Linked DNA regions of Homo sapiens: regions 1, 2 and 3 are each linked to region 4. The links come from fine-mapping of genetic effects on gene expression. A gene starts in region 4. Each other region holds a variant in brackets. All regions are shown on one strand. Distances are from middle to middle.

Evidence for each region.
Region 1: its variant is fine-mapped to the expression of NOL4L in whole blood (INTERVAL, PIP 0.96).
Region 2: its variant is fine-mapped to the expression of NOL4L in T cells (TOPMed, PIP above 0.99). The same link has a PIP of 0.9 or more in aorta, blood mononuclear cells, breast, gastroesophageal junction, lung and memory regulatory T cells.
Region 3: its variant is fine-mapped to the expression of NOL4L in whole blood (TOPMed, PIP 0.98).

Annotation. Positions count from the first base shown.
Region 1 is chr20:32,526,748-32,534,818 of GRCh38, forward strand. It overlaps NOL4L (nucleolar protein 4 like), which reads right to left. Exons shown (of 11, transcript NM_001256798.2): 2 at 1,011-1,166. Among named protein-coding and RNA genes, the nearest start is that of NOL4L-AS1, 30 kb to the right of the region's middle. RefSeq lists enhancers at 1-2,564, 7,879-8,071 and a silencer at 548-721. The variant G/A (reference allele first, on the strand shown) is at 4,598.
Region 2 is chr20:32,449,609-32,457,679 of GRCh38, forward strand. NOL4L (nucleolar protein 4 like) reads right to left here. Exons shown (of 11, transcript NM_001256798.2): 6 at 6,510-6,787; 7 at 3,968-4,153; 8 at 3,696-3,887; 9 at 3,276-3,398; 10 at 2,628-2,829. Among named protein-coding and RNA genes, the nearest start is that of ASXL1, 95 kb to the left of the region's middle. RefSeq lists enhancers at 6,978-7,893, 7,894-8,071 and silencers at 7,287-7,556, 7,567-7,616, 8,047-8,071. The variant C/T (reference allele first, on the strand shown) is at 4,758.
Region 3 is chr20:32,494,539-32,502,609 of GRCh38, forward strand. All of the region lies in intron 4 of NOL4L (nucleolar protein 4 like), which reads right to left. Among named protein-coding and RNA genes, the nearest start is that of NOL4L-AS1, 63 kb to the right of the region's middle. RefSeq lists an enhancer at 2,407-2,923. The variant G/A (reference allele first, on the strand shown) is at 3,519.
Region 4 is chr20:32,581,927-32,589,997 of GRCh38, forward strand. It overlaps NOL4L (nucleolar protein 4 like), which reads right to left and starts at 3,407. Exons shown (of 11, transcript NM_001256798.2): 1 at 2,644-3,407. The coding sequence starts at 2,964. It overlaps NOL4L-DT (NOL4L divergent transcript), which reads left to right and starts at 5,553. Exons shown (of 3, transcript NR_034152.1): 1 at 5,553-5,630. RefSeq lists silencers at 1,320-1,529, 1,700-1,919, 2,030-2,079, 2,140-2,349, 2,380-2,579 and 4 more and an enhancer at 3,980-4,059.

The DNA.
Region 1 (8,071 bases), 55 kb before region 4:
CCCAGTTTCCTTAACTGTGAAATGGGTCCTCAGTGCCTCGGTCACAGGACTGCATCAAGGCTTGAATGAGCATGAAGGGCTTGGCTTTACTGGCTTCCCTGGGCACTGGACAAATGGTTCAGAGCTATGTATGAGCTGTGGATAGGCCCACATGTGGGTCAGCAGGAGATGGATCAGAACACAGGCAGGCCCCTCTGCAGGGTGAGGAGGGGCCTCTGGTCTGGCCAGTCCCATCTATTTCCACCTCCCTGGCATTTGTGATGCTTCCTGCCCCTAGGTTGCCTTTTTTGCCCTTATGCCTCCCCAAAGCGTAGAATGCCAGTACAGGTGTCACCTTCTCCACACAGTCCCCCGGGCTCATCTGTGTCTGGCGGTGCCTGTGCTAAATGCCCCTGAGCCTGGGTTCTTGCTCTCTCAAAGCGAGCCTTGGAGACATTTCTGCTTCTCATGTATCTTGTTTTTGCTCTCAGCCTCCCCACCCCAAATCCAATTGTGATCTCCTGGAGGGTGGGGAGCAGGTCCTTCGACTTCCCCTGGGGAACTCCCAGTCCTGACTTCACAGGATGAGCTCACACATAGGAAGAGCTCAGGACAGGCCTGGCATGCAGTAAATGCCATGCCATGAAGGCATTTGCTCCTCTGATTATTATCTGTCCCCAGCACCCCAGCCCCAGAACAGGCTGCAAGGGGCTGGGGGTGGTGTCGGGTGGGAGCAAGTGAAGCAGAAACGGGGAAGAGGAGGGCGCCTCCTGCCCTCATCCCTCTCCTTCCCTCCCTCTCACCCCCTTCAACCTGCTTTTCCTTTGTGCTCAGACCACAGATTCCCTCCCCTCGCCCTGTGAGCCATCTCTGGCTGCCGTGCCCTTGCCCTGTGCCCCCCTAGATCCCCAAAGGCCGTTTCATCACGCCTCAGCTCCCTGCCCCGCCCCCCAAGCCCAACATGTGCGGAGCCCGTGGCCTCCTGCCAAGGCCTGGGGCTGCCAGTGGAGGCAAAGAGACAGAAATCTCACCGCTCGGTAGGTTTTCTTCTGCCCAGCGTGCTTGGGGGCTTTGCCTGGCTCCGCTGAGCTCTCCACATGCATCGAGTAGATGATGTCAAAGAAATCTTCCACCACAGCGACCCGCTTCAGAGAGATGCCCTCTGGCTCCGACAGGCCATCTGCCCCCTGCGACAGGGTGGACAAGCTGTGTTAGTGTCAGGAATGATGGCGGGGTGAGAACTGGGCCCTGAGGCCGGGGCAAGGGGTCAGGACGGGCAATGCCTCCGACAGTGGGTCTTGGGGTGGGGAGGGGAGGGAGCCTACCGAGGGGGCTCCCTGGAGGGGGACGCCAGAGTCAGGGTGGCTGCAGCTATGAAATCTACCAGCAACAATGGGCAGAGAACGGCGACAACGAAAATACAAATTAAAAAACCAAGAGGCTCCATGTTCACAATTTCAGACAGATTGTGCCAGACTCGGGCGGGGAGCTCTTGAATCACACGCTGTGCCAAGACCATCCTGGAAGTCTCTGGGGAGGGGGGAGTGCTAAATAGATGCGGCCCCATCAGGAGCTCGCCAATTAGCAGTAACCTTTCACTGTGGGCCTGGGCTGGGGTCCCGGGGGAACAGCTCCGATCACCTGGGTGACTCCTGCCTCCGCCCTGGCCTTTCTGAAAAGCTTTTCGCGGCTGCCTGCCCTCCCCACTCCAGCAGCTGAGCGCCAGCAACGGCACCCGGGCCCTTTGTGTGTGGAGATGTACAGAATAACAGGCACGAGGCCACGAGGAGGTGGCAGGGCCGTGTGAACGGGGCGGCCGTGGGCCCCGAGCCTCTTATCAGGCTGGCTGAGTGGTGTCAGCTGGCCCGACTAGGTGTGCCAGGAGCAAGACGGGTCCTTCAATAGCAAACAGCTGTGGGGCTGACGCCTGCCCTCCCCTCCAGCAGGAAAGGGGGCTGCAGGGAAACCACAGGGCAGGAGGCTGGGGGTGAGGCCAGGGCCCGGAAGGGAACGGACTGCTGGGGAACTGCTCCGTGCAGGCAGTCCTCACAAGGGAGATACACAGACCCAGAGACACTAGGCTGTCAGCCACCAGCTCCTTCAGGGGAGTCTGTGGGGACGTTAGGGGGCTTTGAAGATCAAGAGCAAGCCATATGGAGGGAATTTGAGGGGAAAGGAAGCAGGCTTTTCTCTAAAAGTGCCCAAAAGACACATCTCCAAGAGAATTCTTCCCCAAAGGACCCCAACTCAAGGATGTCAGCAACAAGAGGATGTGGGCTTCGCCTGCTCCTTCTCAGCTCTCTCCAGCACTTACAACAGTGCCTGACACATAGTAGGTAGTCAGTAAATAATGACTGAATGACTGAGTGGTCATAAGTGGCAGCTGGGCAGGGTCACTTGGACACACTCTGCCATGGTTTGAATACGGCCCCATCATGGAAGTGGCCCTGTGACCCCGAGCACTTACTGTGCTTCGAGCTTCAGGCCCTTTATCTGTAAAATGGGGATAACAGAAGCCCCTTTCCCATGAAGAACTGAGTTGTGTGTGCAGCACTTGGCACTGAGCCTGGAGTACAGGGATTGCTAGATATTGTTATTAAGAAGTGCTTTGCAGTTCACCATGTTTCCCCCAGGTATGAGAGAGCCGAACACCGGGGCAACCCTCGGAGGTTGTTAGGGTCAGGACCTGCCTGAGGTACAGTGGCTGGTGGATGGCACAGATGGCTTCAGACCTTGGACTCTGTAGTCCAAGTAGAATACAGGCCACACTGGGAGGTGACGCTCGCTCACAACACGTTCTGGCACAGACAGGTCTTGGTTTCACCCAGTAGCTTTCTCGACACACCATGATGGCCGAACAGCAGTGTCTCTTCACCAGCAGCCCATTCAAGAGCAGAGAGCAGATGGGGGGCAAAGGGCATCTGGGATGTGGGGTCCCGAGCCCCACAGCTAGCGGGCAGTGTCCCTAAGTGGTAACCCTGGGAGGTGACCTCACTGGCCCCAACAAGGCCCTCTTGCCAGTGGCTTCCTTCCTGGTCAGAACCCATTTCAGTGGGACGTCTCAGATAGCACATATCTCTCTCTCTCTGTGTGTACAGGAGAAGCCACTTGCTGGTCCAGCTTCCTCGCTGTGAGATTATGGGCAAACCCTTCAACCTCCCCGAGCTTCATTTATGAGATGAGCTGTAAAGTTCCATGACTTTTCTGCTCTTAACCTCTCTCAGGAATCAATTTTACCTCTTTTGGGGAGTATCCCACCCCCTCCGACATCTCAGGCCATCTGTACGGGCTGATCAATGACTAACTTGTTCACTATTGACCCGTAAATGCCCAGCATTACAGGGCTCTTCATATACTGCCATGACAGGGTTGGGATGGGACAAATATTATGATAGGTCAGTTAGACTTTTAAAAAATTTTTTACTCAGCAAAGATATGGATTTGGGATGTACAGTTATAATACACTTCTAACCAGAGGTTCACATTGGTGAAAATAAACAAAATGAACCTTAAGAATGAATATAGCTGGTTTTGGCTGGGCGCGGTGGCTCACGCCTGTAATCCCAGCACTTTGGGAGGCCAAGGCGGGTGGATCATGAGGTCAGGAGATCGAGACCATCCTGGCTAACATGGTGAAACCCTGTCTCTACTAAAAATACAAAAAATTAGCCGGGCATGGTGGCGGGAGCCTGTAGTCCCGGCTACTCGGGAGGCTGAGGCAGAAGAATGGTGTGAACCCGGGAGGCAGAGCTTGCAGTGAGCCGAGATCGCGCCACCGCACTCCAGCCTGGGCAACAGAGCGAGATTCCATCTCAAAAAAAAAAAAATGAATATAGCTGGGTTTCTATTTGTTGATCTGGGCAGTAGTTATAGAAGTGTGTTCAATTTATTAAGTCATTAAATCTTAACACTTGGCCGGGAATGGTGGCTCATGACTGTAATCCCAACACTTTGGGAGGCCCAGGCAGCCAGATCACCTGAGGTCGGGAGTTTGAGACCAGCCTGACCAACATGGAGAAACCCCGTCTCTACTAAAAATAGAAAATTAGCTGGGTGTGGTGGTGCATGCCTGTAATCCCAGCTCCTCAGGAGGCTGAGGCAGGAGAATCACTTGAATCCAGGAGACAGAGGTTGCAGTGAGCTGAGATCACGCCATTGCACTCTAGCCTGGGCAACAAGAGTGAAACTCCATCTCAAAAAAAAAACAAAAACAAAAACCTTAACATTTATAATCTGTGTATTTCTGTATGTCTGATAAACTTTAATTTAAAAAACAGTTTTTAAAAAGGATATCATGGGGGTAGTTCCACTGAATTTTTAAATTCAGGTAAAATACCCATGCAGAATGTACCATCTTTACCATTTTTAAGTATAGAGTGAAGTCAGCCACATTTGGATCACCTGAATCCAGAGGCATAGCTCTAGAGGCTTAGCTGCTTAAAGGCCAATAGACCTCCCTGTTCAAAATTGTTTCAGACCAGAACACAGATATTTCTGGAAAAGGAAGGAGATAAAATTTTGTGGGAAGGAATGGAGAAAGAAAGCAATCTGATGAGGAGACAATATTTTATGTAGGTGAGATGGAAATTTCCCCCTAACCAGCTTGTGGGGGCCTTAG[G/A]TGGGTTACTTTATTTCTATACCTTTTTTTTTTTTCTTTTTTTTGAAACACAGTCTCACTCTGCCATCAGGCTGGAGTGCTCACTGCAACCTCTGGCTCCTGGGTTCAAACGATTCTCCTGCCTCGGCCTCCCAAGTAACTGGGATTAAAGGCGCCTGCCACCACACCTGGCTAATTTTTGTATTTTTAGGAGAGATGGCGTTTCACCATGTTGGCCAGGCTGATCTGAAACTCCTGACCTCAGGTGATCCATCCACCTCAGCCTCCCAAAGTGCTGGGATTACATGTGTGAGCCACTGTGCCCGGCCTATTTTTATACCTCTTGAAAGTCAGTTTCCGCACCTATAAAATGGGCCTAAAAAGTGCTAGTTGGATGTTCCAAGGATCAAGAATGTATGTCAGGCATCCAGCACATACAGACTTGGTTAATGTTCATCTCTTCCCTTGGACCCCTCTGAGTCTGGACATTTTGTGTTTAGGAATCTCCTCTTATCTCTGGTCCCTCTGACGCGTCCAGAGGGGACCCATGACAAAATGTGTCCCCCTCAGTAACACCCACCATCAGAAGAGATGCACAGTCTTATTTAATTCCTAAATAATATGCTAAGGCTCCCACAAACTTGGAATAAGCTTTCCAAAAGTCAAAGTGTAATTGACCAACCCAGATAAAAAAGCAAAACGTACTGTCCCATGTGGCCTGTCTCTTCCCAGCCTCCCACCTGCCCTCTTAGGTTGACTCTGGTAAACAACAGCTTTGCACCTGGTCCAATGTGACCATAAAATTAATCCCAGCAAAATTATTCAGGGAAGCAGTTTTCAGTTAGTTCCTTCTTTAAAAATTGATCACTTTCTCCCTTAATGTTCAAATTTGGGTCCTGTAATCCACCTATCTCTACAGCAAAGATTTACATAGGAAAGGAGAGGGCCTGGAGCGACCAGAACTCAAACCACGCAAGGGCTGCAGAGCCATACCTTGAACTGTCCTCTGGTGAGCTAGGGCCACCTGGATTCCATGTGTGCTACACCCTAGGGGAAGAACGCCAGGATGTCTACGTGGCCTTCAAGGAGAACCCTGAGAAGACAGCAACAAAGGGATCCGACAGTAGTCACGTGCCGCAGACATCTCTGCTATCCCTTGCATCCATGGAGGTAATAACCTTCATGCTAAATGCTGCAGGGGAGGCAGGCCTTCCCTAGCTAAGGATCCAGACAGTGCTGCAAGGGAAGAGCTGCTAATAAAGGAAGCAGAAAGCACCTTCCCTGTAGACTTGGGAAGCCCCTGCCATCCCCCTTCTGCCTGGTACCCAAATTAGCTTCATCTAATCCATTGCCCTAAGCAAACTGGACAGTGAATTGACAAAGGAAGTTCACTTTATCTATAGGCTGGATCAAGAAGGGACTTGGAGTCTCCTGCCTATCCCAGCTTCCTGGAAACACCTAGCAGGAGTAATGGAATGGAACCCTGTATCACCCCATGGGAAGAACCACGAAAAACACACAGTCACTTGTGTAGGATCAACCTCTGGGGCCTTCCTGCATGGAGAAGAACATTGCCATGGTAACACACACCATCCTTTCGAACCATCCAACCCCCAAACAGCCTGCCAGAGCCAGGCCAACAGAATCAGACATGGCAATAGTTTTAAAAATTTATGGAGAAGCTGGGCATGGTGGCGCATGCCTGTAGTCTCAGCTACTCAGGATGCTGAGATGGGAAGACCACTTGAGCCCAGGGGTTTGAGTCTAGCCTGGGCAACACAGCAAGACCCATCTCTAAAACAAAAACAAAAACAAAAAAAACCTACACATTTATGGAGCTACATTCTTGGACATCACCAGCTCCCTTAACACCAGCCCATTTGGGTTCTAAATGAAAAGCTAGGTGGCAAGTCATTGACAAAATCACCAAATGTCTACTTAAATACATCTGATATTTCAAAATATTACAGCAATGGTCCTTAGACCAGCAGCATTGGCATCACCTGGGAACTTGTTAGAAATGCACATTTTCAGGTTCCACCTTAAACCTACCAAATCTGATGTGCTGGGGGTTTTAACAGGCCCCCCCAGATGATTCTGATGCAAGACAGATTTTGAGAACTGCTGATCAGAATGTCTCCATGATTGAGCCAGGGAGGTAACTGTAGGAAAACAGGTATTGGCTCATTAAATATAGACATGCTCTGTGCTTCCTGGCCTAATATATTAATATTTTCATTTCCGATGAAGGCCAATTTTCCTAATGGTGAGAACAAAAGAATCTTATTGGGCAACATTAGTATAAATTCAACACATCTGCCCAGAGACTTAATGTGGATTATGGATAGAAAGAGCAGGAACGCCCTGCATCCTGACATCAGATTTTTAAGTCCTCCCTGGCAAAGTTAATAAATACTTAAGCAGGGCATCCCTTGGCAGGTCCTTTCTGGCTTCCTCGTTTTCCTCAGATGGATCTGAATGCTCAGCATGCTAATTCCCAGGCTGCAGACCTAAGAGGGGGATCGGCATGTCTTACCAGGCCATTAGACAGGCTCCTGCCGGGGCGACCTCAGGGAGCTCCTGAATCGGACTGAATCTTGCCTGTCTCCCCACATGAGCCAATTAAATGGACCCCTGCCCCTGATGGTGAAGTGAGGTCCAGTTGCTAATGGATTGCAGTTCTGTCATCTCCATTAGAGCTTCGAAGTCACTTGCTGGTAATAAGTTACATACTTATCAAGGTGGGATCACAGTTTTAGGCCACCAGGGTGCCATTTAGTGTGCCACCATCACTATATTAGTAGAGTGTGCCTTCCAGCAACGACGAGGCCATGGTTGAGAGGATGCGGCTAAATAGCGGAGACATTTCTCAACTGGGTTTCTCCGATGGTAGAAGAAAAAACCACAGAGAAAGGCCTTAGGATAGGCCTTCTGGTGCATTTCGGATCCAGCTCTTGACAAGGAATAAAAATCAACGAGATTGCTATTGGACGAGAAAGTCAGCCAGTAGAGCCCACCCCAAAGGAAGCAAATCTTTGGCTACCACGTGGGAGGGAGCCCAGGACTTCAGGGGGCTGATTGCACAGGCAAATGTGAGGATGCCGCTCCATCCCATCCAGGCCATCAAAGTGGCTGAGATCACAGACAAAAATTACCCTGCATATTAATTACTAGCATGCTCTTCCCAACTTCTGCAATCATGCCATTCCTCCTGTCCCCAAAACCCAGCCTTAATAAATTCAGTCAGGGCTGGGTGCAATGGCTCACGCCTCTAATCCCAGCACTTTGGGAGACAGAGGTGGGAGGATCGCTTGAGCTCAGGAGTTCAAGACCAGCCTGGGCAATACGGTGACCCCCACTCCCCCCACCCCCCGCCGCCAGGAGGTCTCTACAGAAAATGCAAAAAACCTAGCTGGGCGTGGCGGCATTCGACTGTAGTCCCAGGTACTCAGGAAGCTGAGGTGGGAGGATCACTTGAGCCTGGGGAGGTGTAGG
Region 2 (8,071 bases), 130 kb before region 4:
AACAGTTGAGTCTGTTAAAATCAAACACAGGGGGAAGGGGTTGGGGCTGTGTCTGGAAACAGCAGCCAAACAGGTGACTGACTCCCAGGGTGTTGTCACAATGCGGGACTGAGAAGCTTGGAACAGGAGTGCCTCTGCTAACTTCTGGATATTGCAGGGGATGGACCCAGAGGGATGCGGGGGAAGAGGGTCTGGTTCTCTCTAGGGTGGTTCTGGTCCCCTCTGCGTCATGCTTGGGAGTGGCCAGAGCCTCCTGGCATAGTCAACATGAGCAGTGGTCCCGGTTCCTTTCTTTTCTCCTCTCCCCAAGTGCTATCCTGTTCATGCCTGTGCTCAGAGCTTCCTCCCTTCTCTCCTGGGCTGTAGCTGAGGCTTGGAAAGGAGAAGGTCCCTGTTTCCTGCAGCTGATCTGATCTGGAGACACCCCCGTGTAGACTCTGGTTACAGCCAGATGCTCAGGTTGCCGAGGGACTGCCGTATGGTGGGTAGAGGGATAGGAGTGAGCATGAGTTACCCAGCACCCCAGGCAAGACAGGCCGAGCCTGATTCTATCTAAGCTGATTTGCATCTCCAGATGACAACATAATGAGCAAAGTGAGGAGCTCTGAGCCATTAATACGGCTGCCCGGCTGAGGTACCAAACTGATTGAACAATACTTGAAAGGCTGAGGCTGGGGAGGCCAGTGGGGCTGGGTGGCCCTGCAACCACGTGGCTGCCTGTTGTCTTCCTTCAACTGCTGGAGGATTTAAACAATGTTCTTCAAATGAGGTACTAGTGCTCAAGGACAGGGGCTGCCCCAGGCAAGGAGGTAAATGACCAGATTTCTGCGTCAGTGGCCTCCCCACCCACCATGAAGGAACCAGGGTATTCACAGATGGGAGACTGAGACCCCAGGATGCACAAGGGCAGAGCCAGCTGCCTCCCTGGAAGAATCATTCTCTGGCTGCTGTTTGTGCCTCTTGGGCAGGTGTGAACGGGCAGGCATGAAGCAGGCTCAGCCCTAATATGAGAGGCCCTTAGGAGGGTCAGGGGGACTTGGCAGCCGCAGCCCTGAAATAGGTCATGCTGGGTGGACACCAGGTAGAGGCTTGTCACCATCGCCTGCTGCTAGGAGGGAGCAGGCCCCAGACCACCCTCACCTCACCTGCTGAGCCCCAGACCCCCATGTGTAGGGGGGGCAGGGCTTTTCTTCCTGGAATGAAAGGAGCCCGCCTAGGACAGCCACTCCACCTCTCACCGTGCTGGCCACTCCGGCCTTAGCTTCAGGGATTAGGGCCAGGCGGCCTCTTATTTTAGGTTAAGAGGCATTAGGAAGGGATGAGGAGTTAAGCCCAGGCAGGAATCTTCCAGGGACCTGCATACACTTCCTGGTTCTGGGGGGTGGCGGGGGTCAAGGCGAGTGGAGGCAGCCTGGGCTTCCTGCCATGGGTGGGGACTAGCTCCCTCCCTTGCTGCCCAGGAACAGTGAGGGGTCTCCTGCAGCCAAGGATGGGGGCTTAGGGAATCCTCAGGCATGTTTAGCCAAGACCTTGCACCAGGGTTCCCCAGCTTACAGGTGGCACCTTTCTCCAACCTACTCAGGTTCCTCAATTCTTCCCTTCATTCCCTGGCTTCTGAACGACCCCCAAAGCACATGGCTTCTGCCTCTTGCTCTGCCCATTCAAACCTTCTTACAGGGGCAGACAGAATGACACAGACCACACAATTCACGGCCCTTCTGTGCTTAAAACCTAGCAGGGGCTCCTCCTGCACACAGAACACAACCCGAGTGCCTGGCCCAAGAGGTCCTGTGACCCACCAGGCTGACCCCACTCCTCCCCTGCTTCCCTTGGCCTCACAGTAAAGGGGTCTGAGGTTCCCCATTCCAGTTCGTGCTCACGGCAGCACCTGACTCCATGAGGAAGCCTCTGTCTCTTCGGGGGCTGTCTCCTCTAATGGTCTGTGCCCCATCTGCGCAGAGTAGCCTGGGGAGTTACCGGAAAAGCACCTACTGAATCACCCAGCTACAGGAGCGGAGCGAGGGAGCAGGTGTGCACCATCACCCCAGGTGTCTCAGATGTAGGCTCCATGAATGCAGGGGCAAGAACGGAGGCCCAGCACCCAGGTGAGGAAAGCTTTCACCTCACAAGGCAGGCCCTGAGCTGAGGCCTGGGGAGGGAGCCGCCCTGCAGGCCAGCGGGGCCACAGCTGGGCCAGGCCAGCAGCTGTCTCACTGAGCCTCAGTCGCTATGGGTGAGACAGACGGGGCTGCGGAGATTCAACTCAGGCCAAGAACAGGCCCTTGGCTGGGACTCGGCACCCACAGGGACCCTGGGGGAGTGGAACCAGTGAGAGGCGCCGGTAGTGAAGGTGGGAAGTGTTGGAGCAAGCGTCACTGGCGGTGAGAAGGGGGCGGTAGGTTTTTGCTTTAACCAACTGAGTCTCCTTCACCTTCCAATCTAAGGACCAGCTAAGACGATGAAGTGGAAGGGTGCCAGAGCCGCCCCTCCTGCTCCCTATGCTGTGAGGCAGCCCCTTTCCATCACTGGCCTCTGCTTCCCTCTCCCCATTCCGCTGCCCAGGGCTGCTCTGCAGACCCAGCTGGGTGCTGGTCGGGAAGCCAGAGCCCAGGCCTCCCCCGACTCACCATTACTGTGGTTTCCTGTTTGGAGGGAGGCAGGGGGCTGCAGGTTGCTGCTCAAGGCCCCGTACCCGCGGTAACTGTAGTTGAGGCCGCCGTTGGCGTACACAGGGTCCTGGGAGTAGGAGGAGGCTGGCAGTGAGTAGGTGGAGTGGGTGATGGCTGCGGAGTCCCGCGAGTGCTGCTTGTCCAGGGCTATGGGCTCATCCTGCAGAGGGGAGAGGGGGGCGCTGGGGAAACCAAGGGGCAGCTGGCCCCAACTACCATCCCTGGACACAAGGTGGATAAATGCTGCGGCCCCAGGACTCCTGGGACCCAATGCTGCGGTTTGACCTGTGGGATTCTGTCTGTCCCCTCCCCCAGCCACCTTCCCCCCGGGGGCTTTCCCCAACTCTGCTCATCTCCCTGTCAGCGTATTTGATCAGGGCCCTCTGGTCTCCAGATGAAGTCCAGGCTTCCGTATGAGGTCTGAGGAGCTCTGAGAACAACACACCTGACCTCCACCCACCTCCTCTCCTTGTCTTTGCCCTCCTGTTCCCCCTCTGCCCTTCTCCCGACTGTACCCATCACAGCTCCCTCAGTCCACACCCATATAAGGCCTGCCCTCCCTGGCTGCCCAGGAGCGGCCCCTGTAGTGGCTGCGGTGGCAGGTACCTGTGAGGACTGGTAGATCTCTAGACGCATCCGCTTGGCTGCCTTTCTTGTCTCGCTCTCACAGGCAGCTGCCAGGATGTTTTCTGCCATGGCCGAGGTCAGATGGGGTGGCGTGGGTCTGGTCTGCAGGCAGAACGGGGATGGAGCTAGCATGGGGCCCGTGGGGGCCCTGGGCTTGTGCAGAGACCCTGCCCCAGGGGTGGGTGGCACAGGGTGGGGTTTGGGCTCCAGCGCCTCAGTCTATGGAGCTGTGTGATCTTTCTGGGCCTTAGTTCCCTCATTTGCAAACCAGGGATTATGGTACTTGCTTCCAGGGCTCCTGGGAAGACCCTGGGTGAAGGGGCCCGGGCATCCTGGGAGTGTGGCAGGAGGTCAGTAGTGGCACCGAGGGAAAGTGTGGGCCAGGCAGGGGGGACTCACCATCTCCATGCCGTTCTTCTTCATGCGACGGCAGGACTTGAGGTACGTGCGGATGCGCTTGCGGGCCCGCTCCTGGAACTCAGGGAACTGCCGGCTGCAGGACTCGATGATGGCCTGGATCTTCTCCTTGGGCTGCTTGGAGATGGGCACCATGCGGTCCAGGTTCTCGTCCACAAAGAGACGCACAAACATCTGTGGAGACACGGGCCATGGGAAGGGCTGGCCCTGGCCTTGCCCCCATCCCACCCCACCTGTTTCCGGCCGGTGCTCACGTTGAAGGCCTTAAGACGCTCAGGGTCCATGCCTTCAGAGTCGTTCATCTTGTCATTGTCCTCATGGTCATCGTGGTCATCGTCGTCATCATCTGCCGTCGGGGCCCGGCCCACTGTCAGGTCCTCAGGGCAGCCGCTGACCTCGGTCTTGATGGAATCGTAGCTCCCAGAGCTGTAGGGGGGGGACTAAAAGGAGGGCAAGAGGCAGAGGGTTGGGCCAAGCAGCTGCTCAAGCCCTTGCTGGGTCTCCTACAGGCGGTGAGCTTGGGGACCAGGGTGGCACGCATGCCCTGCTGCCACGAGAGCCATAGCTGCGAGGCCCTGAGCAAGTCACTCCCCTCTTCTGCTCCCTTCATCTGTGCAATGGGGACAGCAATGCTACCACCTCCCTCCCTGGGCTGCCGCAGGGAGGACCGACTGCAATAGTGTATGCAGAGACCTGGTTCCCGGGGCTGCTGAGCGCTTAGGAGGGTGTCAGCTGTTTCCTCAGCAGAGGCCAACACCAGGACCTGCCACGTGTACAGGGGAAAGGCAGACATGGAAAGGACTCCCACCACCCGCCAGCCTCCTCTCGTGCCAAGATATATTTTGGCTTCGGGGTTTTCCTCCCTGATCCCCAAGGGGCTGCAACCCCAAGTTGACAACCGAGCTGTCACCAAAGCAACGAGCATGCTGTCTGTCGGGAGGAGGAACAGATGCGCTGGGCGAGGTAGCCAGCCAGGGCGACAGGTCCGTTCAGCAGGATGCGTTCCCGCAGCTCCTGAGCTGGACTTCTCCTGTCTGCCCCCCA[C/T]CCAGGACAGCACAGTGGCCCCTTGAGAATATGCGGGTAGAAAGGGAGAGGGAACCGGATCCGGCCTCCCCCAGCAGTCTCCTGTCCTCCAGTAGAGAAGGGCTCCAGCCCTCTGCTCCCACCACGAGTTTCTCCCTGGCCAAGCCCCTCAACCATCTCTCCTTAGGAGCAGCTCCCTCTTTTCCCCCATGCCCCTCCATCTTCTCATCCTTCATGGCTCAGCTCCCACACCACCTGTCTCCTGCCCCTGCCTCGGGGCACCGCTCTGGGACGGCTGAGGACCACTGTTGCCTTTCGGAAAGTTTGTGCCTTCGATGTGTCCTAAGTACTCGTTCAGATCGTGACTGACAGTAGCCTGGGGACACTGTCCCTGCCCTCAAGGAGGTTGGCATCTAGCAGGTAAGGCAGGCTCAGGGAACAGGTGGCGGTATGGTCAGACCCTGTGATGTGGCAGCATGGCCATGGCACAGCCCGGAAGGGAACAGCACTCACTGAGGAGCAAATCCAGGAAGAAGGGCATTGCCTGGCACCTGGTCCCACAGCACGGCCCCCGCCAGGCCTCTCTCCCTGGGACCAGGCCCGCAGGGGTTGGTGCCCTAGGGTCACTGGCCTGGTGCCTGTCTCTTCGTCCACATACAGACTTGGATAGGGGCAGGATGCCGAGGGCCCCCGCTGGCTACCATAACTGGCCGTGTGGCCCCAGGCAAGCCACATTCCCACGCCACTCCTCAGCCAAACCCTGAGCCAGGGCCAGGGCAGACAGATGGAGAAAAAACTAAGATAGGAGCTGCTGGTGGCGTTCCTGCTCTCATCTCACTTCCCTGGGCCCCCCATGTACCCTGTGGCCACAGTGGCAATGGCTGCTGAACACAACTCACCCCCTTCATGGAACAGCAGCTATGCCTGTCCCTTGGACCCAGGCAAAGCCTGCTCTGGCCAGAACCTGCTCCCAGCCACCTGTGCTAGACACATAGCAACAACTCAGCACTGAGCCCATGGTACAGAATGTCCCCACGAGACATTCCAAATGAGGCAGGCAGTAGCACCTACTCCACTCTCTCTGCAGAAGAGAAAACAGGCCCAGAGAGGGAGAAGAGCCTGTCCAGAGGTGTAAGCTCCAGGAAGGCACCTCTGGCCCCCGGGCCCAGGTTGGAGAAGAGGCACTACTACAGGAAACCTTAGTGGCCCGGAGGCAGCTTGTGGAAGTGTGGGGGAGGCCCCAGGAAGCAGGGGGGATGCCCACTGGTAGGGGTACGTACTGTGCCCACCCTTACCACCGTCCATCAGCCTAGTCAAAGGAGGAGTTCCACTGCCCACATCCCTGGGCCCTCGCCCTTTTTTCGCACGACCTATAAAATGGGGACAGGCACGCAGACAAACCAGGCAGTGGGAGGCCTCGTACCTGGCTGTGCCGAAAGTGGCCACTTGCTGTTATCCCCAGCAGATGCTGTTCTGGGGGAGGGGGATGGGTTGTGGGGATGCATATCCACCTACCACCTCTACCAAGGCAGGGGCCGTCAGCTCCACTTCACAGGCTCGGAGAAGGGGGCCTGGCTTGGGGGCACACTCCAAGCCATCTCCCATTCCAGAGCTTCACCAGGAACCGAACACATACCAGCCACAGCCACCACCCTGGCTCGGTGTCACACACATGGGCTGGCTCCAGCTAAGCTCTGGGCGTATACAATTTCATTCTCGCCTCGCGACAGCCCTTTACAGAAAGAAATGGACTCAGCCCCCAGCCCCACACACCTCGGGGGTGGTCTTCACCCCGTATTTGACGCGGCTCCGCAGCCCGTCGGCACCGCAGCCATCCGAGGGGTAGGAGGCTGTGCCAAGTGCCGTGGCCGGCGGGAGCTTGTCACACAGGTTGATGGGCTGATCCTCGGCGGCCGTGGTGAAGTCCATGGGGGCCACGGCGCCGTTGCCATTCATCTCGGGGAAGGCAGGGTCGCCCTGCGTGCTGCTCGACGTGGATGGGTTCAGGGTGGAGGAGCCATTGCCGCTGCCACTCTCAGAGGAGGAGTCATCTGGAATGAGAGGCCTGGGTGTGAGGCCCCACCCAAGGCACTGTGGCCACTGCAGCCACCTCGGAGTATCCCACCCTGTGTCCTCCTCATGAGTGTCCCTGGGTTGGGGTGAGTGCTGCTACCCCACCTCAGAGGCAATTTGCCCCAGCCCACAGCCTCAGCTGAGGCAGCCACAGGGTCCCCTCTGCCAGAACAGAGGGGCCATCAGGAGGGGTGTGGCCAGGCAGGGCTGTGCAGGGCATGGAGGGTCTTCCTGCACCCCAAACTCGCAAGCGTTATGTCCAGGCTTAAGGGAGACCGAGCTCCAAGGGTTTGGGAGTGAGTGGCCTGTCAGAGGGCCCTGGAGGCCCTCGAAGCCCGGCCAGGCTCTCCCTTCTCCCCAGCTCCCAGGACCGCACCTCCCACCCACCCTGCTCCTGCTGCCGGGCACTGCCTTGCAGCTTCGAGCTCTCAGAGCCCCTGCCCACGGTGGGCCCTCAAATGTCTCCTTCCTCTGCCGGAAGCAGGAAGGATGGCTCTACTGTGACCTCCAGCCATTCACTCCCTCCTGTAAGCAAGCCCAGCCCTGGCAGCCTAGGCACAGGCACGGTGGCCCCCGAATCTGCGCTCCGTGCAGGCCCCACGGCCTGGGACGTGCAAAGCCGGGGCTGCAAGGTCTGGGGTCTGCACGCGGCCCCCGAGTGGGCCTGCCCGGCGTCTCAGGGTGGGCAGCCCCGGCAAAGCACTGCGAGGGCGCCCCCTGCCGCAAAGAGCGCGGCACCGCCAGCCTGCGGGCGCGGGGGAGGAAACTTTAACCAGGGGACCAGACAGTTCCAGATACATTCCAGGCCTCTCTGCCCACCCAGCCCCAGCCCCAGCCCCGGCCTCCTGCTTGCTCAGCTGAGACGGCAGAGGCTGAAGCTGCACGGGAACTCCCGGGGTCACTGTCAGGTGAGCACCCGCGAGGGTCCCGGGGAGGTACGGGTGACCCTGGCGGCTCCACACCTGCACCCAGAGTGGGTGGGGGAGGGGTGGTCACAGCGGGCCCTGCCGCCCCTTCCCCCAGGCCAGGGTCACGCCGGACCCCACCCCCACCCTCCCAGCCGGCAGATTATGAAGATTTAGTCCCCGGTGCTGGGCACTGGGCACGCGCACCTCCAGAGCGTCCCCATGGCGACCGAGCGGCTCTAGCGCCCCAACCAATTGCTGGCCTCCCGGCTGCCCGGGGGCGGGTCCAGGCTGCCCATCATGCAGCCAGGCCGGGCAGAGGGGGATGGGAGGCCACGGCGGCGCAGTGCACCCCTC
Region 3 (8,071 bases), 87 kb before region 4:
AAGTTTAGTTGATGGTGCCCAGGCTGTGGCAGAGACTGTGAACCAGTTTTCTTGATATTATGCCCTGAATCAACATTCTCCCTTATCTTTTTCAACCACAGAGGGTAGAAACATGAAATTCTTTCTTTCCCAGCCTCCCTTACAACTGGGAACCACGTGACCCTTTTGCAGCAATGAGACATCAACACAATGCCTCGAATGTGGACAAGGTTGGAGCAATAGCAGGCAACTTGCAACCATGAGGAAAAGCCTCAATAACATCACAGAGACACCAACCCAACATTGCAAATGGCACCAGCGGCGGCTCCTCCATTCTTCTTGTTTTAGGAGTAAAATAACTTCATGTTTTGCTATAGTCAACTGGGTTTGGGGGCCTGTAGTCAAAAGCATTCCTGGCTTATTCACATGGCTCCTGTCCGCGGGTGGACTAGATGGCAAGGATCCCCCACTCCCATGTGGCCTTTTCTCTTTCAAGAGGACACAGGAGCCTCTTGACTCTTTGAAGAGGACACAGGGGTGCTACGCTACGTCCAGGCACCTGCTGTGCGTACTGTGGTGCCTGGGGAGCAGACAAGCATTTAGTTCCCTCACTTGTGGACTCTGAAGGAGGGAAAACTGTCACGGCTGCAGCACAAGTGTGCCTGGGCACTTCCTCAGCCACAGGAGTATCCCAGTTAAAGAACATCTTCTGTTTCTATCTTATCTCTTGAGGTATTTAGAGCCATTCTAAATGCCAGAGCCTTAGAATGACCATGGGGCTGGCAGGGCATGGGCTCTGTGACTCATATCTGTCGAGGAGGCTGCTTGTGGTTGTGCTGGATCGAGCCCCTCTCCTTGACTATCTTCGGCACCGCAAGCCAAAGCTCAGGGCTGCCCGGGCCTATTCCTGAGGTGGTGCAGGAGAGGCAGATGGGCTGCTGGGGACGAAAGGGGTAGGTAGGCGGGCTCTGGGCTCCGTGCCCAGCATTGCCAGCAACATGCCTGTCTGCTGCTGACCCCTGACCCACTCAACTTCCTCCCCAGAAGACAGTCCCTTGAAGAAAGGGGTTCCTCCATCAAAATGTAAAATTTGAAAGCCACAGATGTCTGACCCAAACCTGCTGATCTAGTAACAGGGAAGCTGCAGCATGAAGAAGTTAGATGGCTGGGGCGCAGTGGCTCACGTCCCAGCACTTTGGGGAGGCTGAGGTGGGGGAATGCTTAAGCCCAGGAGTTCAAGACCAGCCTGGGCAACATGGCGAGACCCCATCCCTACAAAAAATACAAACATTAGCTGGGCGCGGTGTTGAGCACCTGTGGTCCCAGCTACTCAGGAGGCTGAGGTGGGAGAATTGCTTGAGCTCAGGAGGTCAAGGCTGCAGTGAGCTGTGATCATATCACTGCACCCCAATAAAAGAAGTTAGATGACTCGTGGGGCAGAGGCACACCTAGAACCAGAGTCGCTGGACTCCCTCTCAGGTGCTCATCTCCACTTTCGACCTGAGACAGGCCCAGGTCCCTGCCCTGCTTCCCTCTGGCAGAGAAAGATCACCACTAGGCTTCACATCACAACACATGTGCACCCGGCTGGCAGGCCCTGGGAGAGCTGCCTTTGAAGACGGCTCCCAGGCATAGCTCCCCCTTACTCCTCTATCTGAGCCCCACTGCTGTTCCTACCCCAGGGTCTTTGCATGTGCTGTCTCCTGTGCCTGGAAAGCCCTCCCACTTCATCTCTGCAGGGCTGGCCACTTCTCACCATTCAGGCCTTGGCTCGGATGCTGCCTCTTCAGAGAGGCCTTCTTGCCCTGAGGCACAGTCTGTCATCTTACTCTATTTTAATTATCTACCCCAAATTTCCTCCTTTTGCATATTTTTTTATATTGCCTTGTTTATCATCTCCAGGCCTGTGAGCTCCTAGGGATGGGTACCTTATCTGTCTCATTCACTGTGGTATCTTCCGTGCTTGGAATGACCTCCAGCATGTAGTAGGAACCTCGGAAATGATTTTTGAGTGAAGGAAGGAAGAAATTTCTTTCTTTCTTTTTTTTTTTTGAGAGAGTTTCACTCTTGTTGCCCAAGCTGGAGTACAGTGGCATGATCTCAGCTCACTGCAACCTCTGCCTCCCAGGTTCAAGTGATTCTTCTGCCTCAGCCTCCCGAGTAGCTGGAACTACAGGTGCCTGCCACCACAGCTGGCTAATTTTTTGTATTTTTAGTAGAGACAGGGTTTCATCATGTTGGCCGGGCTGGTCTCGAACTGACCTCAGGTGATCCACCCGCCTCAGCCTCCCAAAAAGTGCTGGGATTACAGGCATGAACCACCACACCTGGCCTAGGAAATTTCTTTAAAACTACATAATGCTGTGTTGCAGGGAGGACAAGGGTCTGGTCGGCCGTGAGCAGCAGCTGTGCTGTGTGCCTCTCAGTCTGAATAGGGGTCGGGGAGCTACCCGCCTGCCGGGATCCACACCCAGTCACCCCGAGCAAAACAAAGCAGACAGCACAAATTCACAAAGCAATACTGTGCCCTCCTACCCTCAAAAAAAAAAAAAAAAAAAAAGCCCGATAATGAGGTAAACACAATCATGACCAGGAAAAAGCTTGGCCATGCTTCTTCCAGTCCACCCAAAGCCATTATCTCTAATTGATCTCCAGACATCAGCTGCTGAAGCGTCTGAAACCCTCCTGCACCCTCCAGGTCTGGTTACAAAGCCCTGGCCCACCCACCCGCCCCATGGAGTCAGGTCTCCTGGAGCTGCTCTTTGCTGGGGGTGACAGGGCCTATCTGGGCCCCACATGAAAAGGACCCATCAGGCTGACAAGAGTCAGGGTGGGTCAAGAACCTGTGTAAAAGTCACAACCACTAAATGCTCAGCTGCCAGGGGGCTGAGCTGCCTGAGTTTCAGTGCCTTAAGTAGAAGGCTTGACAAAGCCATCAGGGGTCCCGCATTCAAAATAAAAAGCAAGGAAAACCAGGGACGGCTGCAGAAAAGCACCCTGCCCAAAATATCCCACTAGTTCTGGGTGAAAGAGGCACCCAAAAGCTGGAGTGAGGAGTTTAGTTGCAAAACGGAACGGGACTTAGCCACAAGATCACGAATCCCTTCTGGGTCTTGGTTAGGCTGTGGCGGTCACAAGGGCAGCCATCAGTACAGGGACCATCTGGATGTTTTGAGCTGCTCCTTCCTGGCCCAGCCCAGGAAAGACGTCTCCTTTCCTGTTAGGTCTCTCTTGTCCTTAGAAACAGACCGGAGTCAGCTCCCTGGGCTGCCTGGCAGGGGTGTTTTACTGCCAGAGCTCTGACAGGACAGAGCCACTTCCCCCCTTCATTCATGGACGCCCAGGTAGCAGCTCCTGACCTGTGCAAGCTTTTCCCTTGACACACACAAAGCGTCCCGAGGCCAGCCCTGCATGCAGTATTGCTGCTTATGGCACCAGGCAGCTCTCCTGCTTGCACCAGTAAATTACGAGTGCTTCCTGCATTTTTTCCCCCAGATAATAAAGTTGAAAGGCCACCTTGGCATTCTCGCATTTGTAGG[G/A]GTGGAGGTCTGCAGCCCGGAAGGGGCTCGAGCCTCAAGGAGCTGCTGGGGACAATGAGCTGTTCAGGTTCGGGGTATCTGCCAACCCCACCAGACACTGGCTCTCCAGACAGGGTGGTGGCTGTTTTCCACTTTCCCACACAGCTTCAGGGAAGTGAGAGGAAAGAAAAGACACAGACCTCTCCCAGCTCAGGTTGCCCTCACAAAACAGAGGAAATGCTCATTTTCTGTGAGAATTTGGAAATTGTAGTAAGTTTCTAGAAAGCACCCCAGGATGTTCAAGAACATATACTGATTGCAAAAATAATGTCCCATAACAAAAGATGTTTGACAATGAGCTTTTCACGCCTCTCTCTGTTCTCTTAAAAAAAAAAAAAGCTTTCTGATAAATCATTCCCTCTCAAGTTTAGAAATGCCCTATTTTCACAGGGCATGGTGGCTCATGCCTGTCATTCCAGCACTTTAGGAGGCCAAAGTGGGAGGATCGCTTGAGCCCAGGAGTTCAAGACCAGCCTGGGCAACACGTGAAGCCCCATCTCTATAAAAAGTGCAAAAAATTAGCCAGGTGTGGTGGTGTGTGCCTGTAGTTCCAGCTACTCGGGAGGCTGAGGTGGGAGGATCACTAGAGCCTGGGAAGTCGAGGCTGCATTGAGCTGTGATTGCACCACTGCACTCTACCCTGGGCAACGGGAGTGAGACCCTGTCTCAATAAAAAAAAAAAAAAAAAAAAAGAAATGCACTATTTTCTTTGGGAGGCCCAGAAGTTCAAGATCAGCCTGGGCAACAAAGTGAAGCACTGTTTCTACTTAAAAAATTTTTGTGTTTGTTTGTTTTTGAGGCAGAGTCTTGGTCTTGCTCTGTTGCCTAGGCTGGAGTGCAGTGGTGCAATCTCAGCTCACTGCAACCTCTGCTTCCCAGGTTCAAGTGATTCTCCTGCCTCAACCTCCTGAGTACCTGGGATTACAGGCTCCTGCCACCACGCCAGCTAATTTTTGTATTTTTAGTAGAGACGGGGCTTCACCATGTTGGTCAGGCTGGTCTCAAACTCCTGGCCTTGTGATCTGCCCACCTTGGCCTCCCAAAGTGCTGGGATTACAGGCGTGAGCCACTGCTCCTGGCCAAAAAAAATTTTTTTTTAAATAAATGCCCTATTTTGCATGATACCATTTTAGGAGGATGGGGAATGCTGTGCTGTCCATGTTTAGAGCCCCCCGATCCTGACACTGGGCTCATGGTGCTCCTGGTTCTCAGTCCACCTCTGTTTGTCAGTGAACAAAGAGGCCTGGGATAAAGTGTCTTCACATAATGCTCATGTGGTCAGATCAGTGGTGCTGCTGCAGTATTTTTCCTCCACCAAAAAGCGGATACAAACATTTTTAGGCATTAAAGAAACAATTTTTGGCTGGGTGTGGTGGCTCATGCCTGTAATCCCAGCACTTTGGGAGGCTGAGGCAGGCAGATCACTTGAGGCCAGGAGTTTCAGACCAGCTTGGCCAACATGGTGAAACCCCATCTCTACTAAAAATGCAAAAATTAGCCGGGCATGGTGGCAGGCATCTGTAGTCCCAGCTACTCAGTCAGCTGAGGCAGGAGAATTGCTTGAACCTGGGCAGCGGAGGTTGTAGTGAGCCAAGATTTTGCGACTGCACTCTAGCCTGGGCAACAGAGGGAGACCTTGTCTCAAAAAAAAAAAAAAAAAAAAAAGGAACAATTATTTTTTTCAAAGTAATGCCTTTTTTCAAGCCAGCAAAACTTTTAAAAAGAAAGCCAACAAAAGAGGAACAATTCCTACTAGATATTAAAACATATGATAAAGTTTTCACACTTAAAACAGTTTGGTAGCTGCTACATGAATAGTCAAGGAGCCCAGTGGACCAAACAGAAGTAGATTCTGTTTTGGATGGAAACTTAGTAAGTTTTAAAGGTGTCATCTCAAATCAGTGGGGGAAAATGGAGTATTTAACAAATGATGCTGAGACAAAAGGGTTAAGCGGAATCTGTATCTCAGAATACGTCAGCATAAGCTCCAAATGGATCAAAGATTAAATATAAAAAATGAAAATAAAAACATGTATGCTTTTTGCTCTGTCAGCTGGAAGAGCCTGCAAGAAAGGATACTTCAGTACCAATGGGCACACATAGTGCCCAGATCTTGTTTTTTTGTTTTGTTTTATACAAAATATATAGAGATGAGGTTTGCCCAGGCTGGTCTTGAACTCCTGAACTCAAGAGACCCTTCTGCCTTGGCCTCCCAAAGTGTTGGGATAATGGGTGTAAGCCACCATGCCCAGCCAGATTTTTTTTTTTTTTTTTTTGAGACGGAGTCTTGCTTTCTTGCCCAGGCTGGAGTGCAGTGGCACAATCTCGGCTCATTGCAAGCTCCGCCTCCCGGGTTCATGCCATTCTTCTGCCTCAGCCTCCCAAGTAGCTGGGAGTACAGGCGCCTGCCACCACGCCCAGCTAATTTTTTTGTATTTCTTTCTTTTTTTTTTTTTTTTTTACTAGAGACATGGTTTCATCGTGTTAGCCAGGATGGTCTCGATCCGATATTTTGGTTTTTAATATGGTTTTCCAATAAAAGGAATCAGAGCTCCTTGGAGAAATCACTGATTCCAGGATTGGGGCAGGAAATATGCAAGATGAGCCTGGAGTCTTACAGTGCCAGAAAGCAAAGAAGCACTAAAAAACAAGAAACGAACAAACAAAAACCCCAAACACCAATGAGGTATGGCAAAAGAGCACAGGAAACAACTGAAAAAGCTCCAATGGCCAAAGCTAGAACAATTTGTACAACAAAATGAAGAAGTATTGAATGATCATCAAAGCATAAAATAAACAGCTATGAGTCTCGACTTCTATAAATGGCTGAATAAATTAATAAGTGGGGGAGGAGAAACAAATCTCCTATGCATAAGCAATCTAAATAATTTACGTTGATAATTCACCCTAAAAAAGGCAGAACATGACTCCCCACTCTTCAGGTGTGGGCTGCACACGGTGCCTTCCTTCCCAAGTGCACAGTGTGGAAAGAGGGAAAAGTCACTTGACAGGAGAGAAACCTGACAACCAATATCTCAACCAGGTGTGATCAAGGCCAATGGCAACAGTCCTAAATCATGTTGATATTATGGACCCTTAACAGGATGTGATGAAAATGACACTCCATGTCTGTGGTCTTCCTCCTAATAACCCATAACCCCGGTTTTATATAGAGAAAAATGTCAAATTTCTAAATCCTACAAAATACACAACTAGTACTCTTCGAAACTGTCAAGGTTATCAAAAACAAGGAAAGTCTGAGAAACTGTCAAAGCCCAAAGAAGACTAAAGGGACATGACAATTAAATGGAATTAAATGTTACAATGAAAATTAAATGTTGTATCCTGGATGAAATCTTGGAACAGAAAAGGAAATTAGGTAAAAGCTAAAGGAATCTAAATAAACTGTAGACTTTACTTACAATAATGTATCAGTGTGGTTCATTAGTGGTAACAAATGTATCACCTTAATATAAGACATTGATAATACGGGAAACTGTGTGTCGAGGAGTGGGCAATGTGGATACTCTGTACTATCTTCCCAATTTTTCTGTAAAGTTAAAACTGTTCTCAAAAATAGTCTATCAAAAAAAAAATGAAAACATAAAAATACTAAAAGAAAACATGGGGGATGGAGTGGAGTTAGCCTTTTTAAGACTCAAATGCAGAAGCGATTTGAAGAAAAAATTGATACATCTGAGTACATAAAAATAAAAATGACAACACACACAGCATAGGCAATATCAAAAGAGAGAGAGCTACGGATGGGGAAAAGGAGGCAATGACTAACTCTGGGGAATCCGAAGAAAGGAAATGTAAGGAAATGTAATCATAGCATATGTTAATTGGGTCAGCTATGAGTAATATGCACACAGTCATAATAATATAAACAATGAATAGCAATTTATCTAAATAGAGAGGTATAGATATGTTGCAGGATGGAGGAAGGAGAAATAATAAGTGTATTTATGAGAGGGTGTAAGAGTGCAAATACTTATTTCCTACAGCAAGAAATTAACAACAACAAAAGCCCCAATTGAAAAATCAAGAACTTATAGTATAAGCAGGTTATTCCAAAATAGGAGTTAAATACCAGAAGAGACAGCTAAAACATAAGAAAGAAAAGAGGCTGTCCCTAGGGAGTAGAAATTGAAGTGGGGAGGCTGGGGCAGGGTCTGCTATTTTTCTATATGATTTTAAAAAATGTATTCTAGAGGCCGGGTGTGGTGGCTCATGCCTGTAATCCCAGCACTTTGGGAGGCCGAGGCAGGCGGATCACCTGAGGTCAGGAGTTCAAGATCAGCCTGGCCAACAGGGTGAAACCCCGTCTCTACTGAAAGTACAAAAATTAGCTGGGTTTGGTGGCAGGCGCCTGTAATTCCAGTTACTCAGGAGGCTGAGGCAAGAGAAATGCCTGAATCCGGGAGGCGGAGGCTGCAGTGAGGATCACGCCACTACACTCCAGCCTAGGTGACGGTGAGACTCCATCTCAAAAAAAAAAAGTATTCTATCTA
Region 4 (8,071 bases):
CACCTTTCAAAGGAGGTCCCATTCAGCCCCTCCCAGGAAGAGGCCAATGGCTGCCCCAGAATTCCCAGCAGGATTTGTTCCTCTTGGATCAGTGAAAAGGAAAATGGAAATATAAAAATAATAACTGGGCCCCAGGAAAGAACTTGGAGATGGGGGTGGCATCTCCTGCCTGGCTCCGGCTGGCTGGGCGAGTGGCAGGTAACTGACGGGCTCTCGGGACCAGCAGGCCAGGCAGGCGGGCGTGGGGAGCCCGAGGGGCGGGCTGTCGAGGGAGGGCACGTCTGTTGTGTTTGTCGATCTCCTGGCAGCCTGGACTGGGAGGCCTGGGTCCCCTTTCTCTGCCTCCCAGGCAGGTGGTCCCTTGGGGAGGGCTCATTATTGGTCTGAGAGCCAGGGTGGAGACTGGGGACGGTCGCGCTGCCAGGGGCAGGCAGAGCGGGTCAGCGTGGGTCTCAAGGAGCATCTGAAGCCAGCAGCTGGGCCGGCAGGACCTGGGGTCCAGGCCCAGCACCCAGTTTCTGCATGTGGCCTGGATAGGGGGAGGGGGTGCTCAGCCTCTACAGCTGTGTGGATAAAGAGTGGACGACTGCTCCAGATGCCCACTCCCTAGGGAGAAGTCGAGCCACACAGAAAGCCAGTGAGCCAGCTGCCAGGTCTGGGGGGTCACCCCCCAACTCCAGGAGAGGGTGGACTCAGGGCTCCTGCCTCAGACTAAGAAGGTTGGGCCAAGGCTTCCAGCTCTTCAGGGAGGTGTAACCAGGATGGGGGGGTGGGGTGGGGCACCGACCCGGGAAGCCCTGATGGCAGAGGGCACTGACCTAGGGTAGGGGGCAAGACCCAGCCAACCATCTCGTGGGTCACTGACCTCAGAAAAACCGCCCTCCGGCGGGGGGCAGTGACCCAAGATGGGAGAACCGAGGAGGGGACCGACCTGGCAGGGTGGGGAGGGCTGACCCATACTCCCCATCTGGGAAAGTGGCACTGATTTGGGCTGGGGGAGGGGTCCTGGACTCGATCGGGGGAGGGGACAATGACCCAGACTCGCCGGGTTTGAGCGAGAGTGCTGATTTAGGCTGGGAGGGTCCCAGCCTTGCGCGGGCTGGGTCACTGCCCCAGCTTCCCCCTCGGGGAGCCCGGTCCCGGCGCGCCCCTCTGCCCGGCCCCCTGTTCCCGGTCCGGCCGGAGGCGGCAGCGGCGCAGATGGGCTGCTGGCGGCCGCAGCGCGGTTATCAGCGCTCCTCGCAGATGGGCCGCCCGCCCTCCGCGCTCGCGGCTCCCACTCCCCGCGGCCTGCAGCCCCGTCCCCTGGGCGCGGGGGGAGGCGCCTCCGGATCTGCTCCCCGGCTCCCGCCTCCCTCCCTCGCGGCCCCCTCACCCCGCGGGCCCGGCCCGGGCGGCCGCGGAGGGGGAGGGGGAGGGGACAAGTGCACTTTTCGTAACGACCGAATCAATTGTGTGTGAAGAGCCCGCTCCGGCCGGGGACGGGGCTGAGCGCGGGGCGGGCGGGCCGGCCGGGGGAGGAGCGCGGAGGGGGGAGCGGGGGAGCGGGGGAGGGAGGGAGGCCGGCGCGGGGCGGCCCGGCTCTCGCGCTCCGGCCGGGGAGGGAGCAAGGAGGGCGGGGGGAGGCCGGCGCGGCCCGACCGGGCCGGGGGCGGAACGCACTAATGGAGGGTCTCGGCGACGGAAAGTTCAAAGCTCAGCAGCGCCCCGGGAGCGGCCGCCCCCCCCCCAGCCCCCACCCTCTGCAGAACAATGAGGTCCCGGCGGGGGAGCCGCGGGGCCCGCGCCGCACGCCCTCTCCAGGGCGCCCCGGGCCAGAGGGGACGCCCCCGCCCGGCCGCCCGCCTCCTCCCTTTAGGCGGCTGCGGTTCCCCGCCCCCTCCCCCACGCCACCCCGCCCGGACCGGGCCGGCCCGGGGGACGGGGGAGGGGAGGGGATGGATAGGTCAGGCCTCCCCCGTCCCATGAAGGGGGAACGAGGGGCCCGGGGGGCTGAGGGGGCGCCCCACCCACCCGCGGGAGGCTGCTCCTGCGCCAGGCTGCGGCTCCGGCCGCCCCTCCCCGGGCCAGCCCCGGGTGGGGTCGGGGCGACAGTGCCCGGGCGGGCCCCCTCCCCTGGCGCTGGGAGGCCCGGCGGACTCCCCGTCCCGCGGCTGCCCCTGCCTCCCTCCCCCCCCCCCACCCCGCGGCACCACCCTCCGCGCGCGCACACACACACACACACACACACACACACACACACACCGCCCAGCCGGCCCGGGGGCGGGAGCGCGAGGCGCCCGGGACAGGCAGCCCCGGGGCGGGCGGGGGGAGGCTCGGGCTCCAGAGCAGCCGCCTGCTGGCGGGGGGAGGGGACAAGAGGACGGAACATGCTGGGGTGAGCAGCCCGGGACAGCCTGCCCGGCACGGCCACGGCCCGGGCAGCGGCGCGGAGGGGGGCAGGGACGCCCCGAACCCGGAGCGCTGCCCAGGCGAGCCGGGAAGGGCCGGTGAGCAGGGACGCGTGCGCCTCCGGCGGGCCCGACACACGGACAACCTCAGGGACACACGTTCGGACACACATCCACACCCCCACCCCGCCCCCGCCCGCCTGCCCCAAGCCCCGCGGCGGGACCCGCCCGCGGCCGCCGCGCGCGCACTCACCGAGCCCGTCTTGACCGGCACATACACCACTTGGCCCATCTTGGGTTCCCGGCCGCTGCCCAGGCGGAAGCCCTTGGAGCGCACCCAGAACTGGAACTTGCCTTTCTCGCCGGCTGCGGGGCCGCTGCCCGCGCCAGTCCCGCCGCCGCCCTGCAGGACCTCGGCGATCCGCTGGTATTTGCTGCGTGTCACCGTCTTGGTTTTGGCCGAGTCGCCGTAGGTGCGCAAGCACCAGTCCCGGAACTGGCGGCCCAGCTCCGAGTCCCCGGGGCTGCGCTCGCGCTCCCAGCCCCCGCGCAGCAGCAGCGTCGGCTTCGGCATCCTCCCGCCGCGCCCGGCGCCCTCGGGGGCGGGCCGGCCGCCGGGCCGCCCGGTGCCGGGACTGGGCTGGGCTGGGCTGGACCGGGCCGGGACGCGCCGCGGCCGCGTCTGTCCCGCGGTGTGGCTCCGGCGAGGCTGCTGGATGGGCGCGGGCGGCGGCCGGACGCGCGGGGCTGCGGCGCGCTCTGTCCTGCTCGGGCGGCGGCGGCGGCGTTGGCGGCGGCGGCTCCGGCTCGCCTCCTGCTCCGCCTCCTCCTCCCCCCGGCCGGGATGCAGGAGCGATGGAGGCAGCTCCGGGCCCGGAGGTGCAGAGGGGGCGGGCCGCCCCGCGGGCGGCCGGGGGAGGCGGGAGGCGGGGAGCGGCCCCGAGCGCTGGGAGCGAGACCGAGCCTGGGCGCGGGCGGCAGCAGTGGCTGTCAGCTTGCGCGGCTCATCCTGCTCTTGCTCAGGCTCCCGCTGCCGCGGCTCTTCCTCCTCCTCCTCCTCCTCCTCCCGCGCCCGCCTCCACCACGCCGCGGGATCCCACCTGTTAGAGCGGCGCAGCCTTCGCCGCCGCCCGCCCCCCCCTTCCTCCTGCGCCCGCCCGCCGGGCCCAGCCCCCGCCCGGCCCGGCCCCTGGGGGCGCGGGGGCAGCCGCGCCCGCAGCCGCCGGGAGGGCAGGAACCACAGGCGCGCAGTGCCCAGCCCAGGAACCGCGTTCCGTCTGGCCGGGCCGGGCCCGGAGCTTCGCAGGCCCCGCTCCTCCCGGACGCGGCGGTCCCGCGGGGAGTAGGGCGCAGACCCCAGCCCAGACGCCGACCTCCCGGCCGCCCCGCCCCACTTAGCCAGGCCGGGAAGGTGTAGGGCAGGCTCCCCCTCCCTCGCTCCCGCAAGTGACTTGACCTCTCCCGTGAGCCGAAGCCAGAAGAGCAGTGTTCCCCTGGGGGAACCCCACATCGCCGCCCTTCGGGGCCCCCAAACTTCCTCTCCTTTTGCCTCACCCTGAATTCCCCGAAGTTTGGCCAGCTTTGCCTCTGCTTGCCTGCCCCACTGCTCTGGGACAGGCCCAGGCCCCCTGGGAAGTCGCCTGTGGCCTCAGCCCAATCCCACCTCCGCTTCAGAAAACTCTCAACACATCCACAAACTCATCCTGAGACACCCTGCCTTCCTGAGTGCGCCTTGACCTAGAATCTCTTGCTGAGTAAACTCAGGTAGCCCCACCGCCCCCCTCCTACCTGGGCAGATCTGACCTTGGGTAGAGCTAGCTGGTCCCCTCCCCCTTAATGAAATTACCAACATAAATAAAGGCACAGGCCAATTCCCCAGGATTTCTGTGCCCCTACCCCCCACTTCCTTAACAGGTCATGAGGAATTGCTGCACTTCTCTCCCAGCTGTCCCCGGGGGTCCACCCCATGTCCCCATGACACTCCTGCAGGCAAGTCACCATCCAAGTCCTGAGGCCCAGACTTTGTCTAGTGCAGGACCGTTTCCTGCGTAGGAACTACTGTCTACTCCCATCCCAAAGTCCCCCACCCCAGGACCTACTACGTGCCATGTCCTGGCAACTCTGAGAGGCAGAGGGAATGGCTCCATTTTACAGACGAAGACCTGGGGCTTGGAGAGGTGGCCTGACCTGCTCAAGGTCATGCAGGAAGGAGGGGTGGGTTTCAGCTCATGTGCATCTGGCTGCTGCTGCCATATCACACACAAACTCTTCCCCTTTCACCGCGCTCGGAGAGAGCCCCACGCTGTGTATACCTGGCTCACTTCCCCCAGTAGACAGGGAGCTCCAGATGCTCAGGGCCATATCTGACCCATCCTCATATGCACAGGCCCTAGCACAACACCTGGCACACAGTAGGTGCCAGTAAATGCTGAAAGAACCCTAGAGGTCTCCCAAGCCCCAACCTCTCTCTGCATTTCACATGGGAGATTATTTTTAGATAATTTACATTTCATGTTACTTTATATACACCAACAACTCCACAGTCATTTTTCCTCTTTATCTTCTCAAGAGCTCTTTTTGGATCTATGCTGGTATGCATGCCCGTTTTTAAGAGGTGACCACTCAGAGCGGGGAAGGCACTACCCAAAGGCCAGCCCCAGGGGCGCAGGGGCTTCTGTGATTAAGAAGCTCAGACCCTGACTTTTTCCATGTGTCCCTTGACGGTTATCCTTCCAGCACACTCTTCCTGAGAGCAGAGATGCTCTAGCCTGGCAATGGTAATGATAACTGTGGCAAATATGCCCTGTGCCTGGGTGGTGGGGTCCTTGTGTGAGCCCTGGTCTCTCTGTCCAGTTCCAGGACCCACTTCAATAACCACTAAGCCGGACCACCTCTCCACCCAGGCTGGGTCTTTGCCTGCCTTTCAGAAGCTAAAAACCTGGTTGTCAATCTTGGGCTGAGTTCTGGCACAGCAGAATGTATAGTATAATGAAAAGAACATGGGCTTCGGGTGGAGTCAGATTTGGAAGTGAATCCTGATGATTATTTGGCGTGGCATTCTTCATGCTCACAGGTCCCACTTGGCTACTTCACAATGGAATGAAGCCATCATTCCACCCTTTGCTGGGTAACCTCAGGCAGGTCACTGAGCCCCTACTTCATCATCTGTATAGCGGGACAGGATGTCACAGATGTAGAGATTCAACAGGATGAGAGTGCCTGAGCTGTGACGGGTGCCCAGTAAGTGCCATTTTCTCCCTCATGGGGCCTCGAAGTATTCAAGGAGGAAGACAGGCATTGTTGGCACTTTTTGTGCTTCATTCATTCAACAAACATTTGTTTAGCAGCCATTGTGCAGCAGGGGCTTGGGATATGGTCATGGGATCCCCAAGGTCCCTGCCCTACGGGAGTGCACCAATGGGTATGGAAGATGGCTATTGAACAAACCAGCTATTGATCACAACAGCCCGGGGAATGGGCCACGAAGGAAAGAGAGAGCTGTGATAGCAAATAATGCAAAGAAGGGGCTGCTTTTCTTAGGGGGATCAGGGAAGGCCCCTCTAAGGAGGTAGCATCTGAGCAGTGACTTAAATGACAGGTGCCAAGGCATGCTGTTCCTGCATTCCAGGATGAGGGAAGAGCAAGGGCAAAAGCCCCAAGGTGGAAGGAGATTGGCATTTTCTAGAAGCTGGAAGGTGTCCAGTGTGGTGAGACTGAAGTGAGGGAGGAGGGGTTGGAGGGCAGGAGTCTTGAAGACCCTGGGAAATACTTTGGATGGCATTCCAGCTGCTATGGGAGCTACTGGCGAGTTTTAAACGAGCAGGACTGTGGGGTAGAGAAGAAGTGAGGAGAGGAGGGCAGCTGCAGGGGTCCAGAGGTCTGTGGTCTTGGAGGTCAGAGGCCTGGAGGTGTCCCTACTGTGTGACAGCTCACTGCACCAGGCACGTCCCAGCCTCTTGCCCCAAGGGCTCCTGGGAGAGTGGAACAGCCAAGGAGTGAGAACAGCCTACTGCGGCCCATCCCCACTTTTGCAGAAACAGACCCTGGGTCTTCAGCCTATCCGTGTCACTGGGGTCCTTTAGGAGGGGCATGCTGGGTGGGGTGTGGGGTAAGTCTCCCACAATGCCCAACTCCTGGGGGGATGCAATCACGGTCCCAGGGGGCAGCTGCTCTTTTTTGATTTCCATTCCAGACACCTGCCAAAGGAAAAAGTAGGCTGCCCCATGAATCAAAGGCCAGGAGATCCTCTGCATTTTTAAAAATTTTGAGACAGGGTCTCGCTCTGTCTCCCAGGCTGAGTGCTGTGGTGCAATTGCTGCTCACTGGAGTCTCTACCTCCCAGGCTCAAGTGATCCTCCCACCTCAGCCTCCTCAGTAGCTGGGACCACAGGCATGCACCACCACACGCAGCTATTTTTTTTTTAATTATTTTTTGTAGAGACAGAGTCTCTCTTTGTTGCCCAGGCTGGACTCAAGTGATTCTCCCGCCTTGGGCTCCCAAAGTGCTGGGATTACAGGCATGAGCCACTATGCCCGGCCTCTGGATTTTTTTTTTTTTTTCCACACTTCGTCCAGGTGTCCAAGGGAGACTGGAGTTGAAGCACAGGGAGTCCAAGCCCCCAGGGCTCACGTCCTCTCTGAATACAGATAGTAACGTAATCACTCCTGGGCTCAAGTGATTCTCCCGCCTTGGACTCCCAAAGTGCTGGGATTACAGGCATGAGCCACCATGCCCGGCCTCTGGATTTTTTTTTTTTTCCACACTTCGTCCAGGTGTCCAAGGGAGACTGGAGTTGAAGCACAGGGAGTCCAAGCCCCCAGGGCTCACGTCCACTCTGAATACAGATAGTAATGTAATGGGTCACAAGAGCTTGGTGATGAAGGGTTCTCAGAGTATACAGTCCAAACCCTGCCTCTGATAGATGGGTAAACTGAGTCCCACAGGAGCAAAGAGGCTCAGGGCCGCAGGACAGAACCAGGTACCTGGCCTTTGCCTGATTTGGCCCAGATCACCTGCCTTTCACTGAGCTCTGACCCTGGGCCCAGATGAGCGGGGATGCCTGCAACTTGACAGTGAGGTGGCCCTGACTGTGCCACAGGAAGTTCCAGGCCTGGGGTGGGGCAGAGTGACTCAGGCTCCCACAGAGGCCTGTCCACGCAAGGGCCAGGAAGAGCAGAGAGGCCCCAGAGCCTTGGGGAGAGGTAGTTACCACCACTGGGTGCTGGTGCCCCTTCTATCAAGGGCTTGTGCCACCACCTGCCATCCCCCTATTCTATAGCATCCCCCTGCAGTCTGCCAGCCATGCTGAGCCGCTGCTGTACGCCCACCTCTCTAGAAAGGCCTCCTGACCTCTCAGGTTGGGTCAGGGGCTTTCTCTGGTCACTCATAGAGCCTTGGGCTTTCCCCCTCCCAGCTCTGACCACAGCATTTCACGATGGCCTCATTACCTGTGTCGACCAGTGCCCAGCACAGGAGCTAAGGCTTAAACGTTATTGAATAAATGGATAAATAAGCAACCAACCAACCAAATGAATGAATGAATGAATGAATGGGCTTATCCTCAAAAAGCAGGTGCTAGACTGAAGTCTACAGCATTTTCCACCATGCTACTATGCTTCCTCCATAATCAATCCATCCATCAGCATTTATTGTGCTTCTCCTAACAGGCTCTGCTGTTGAG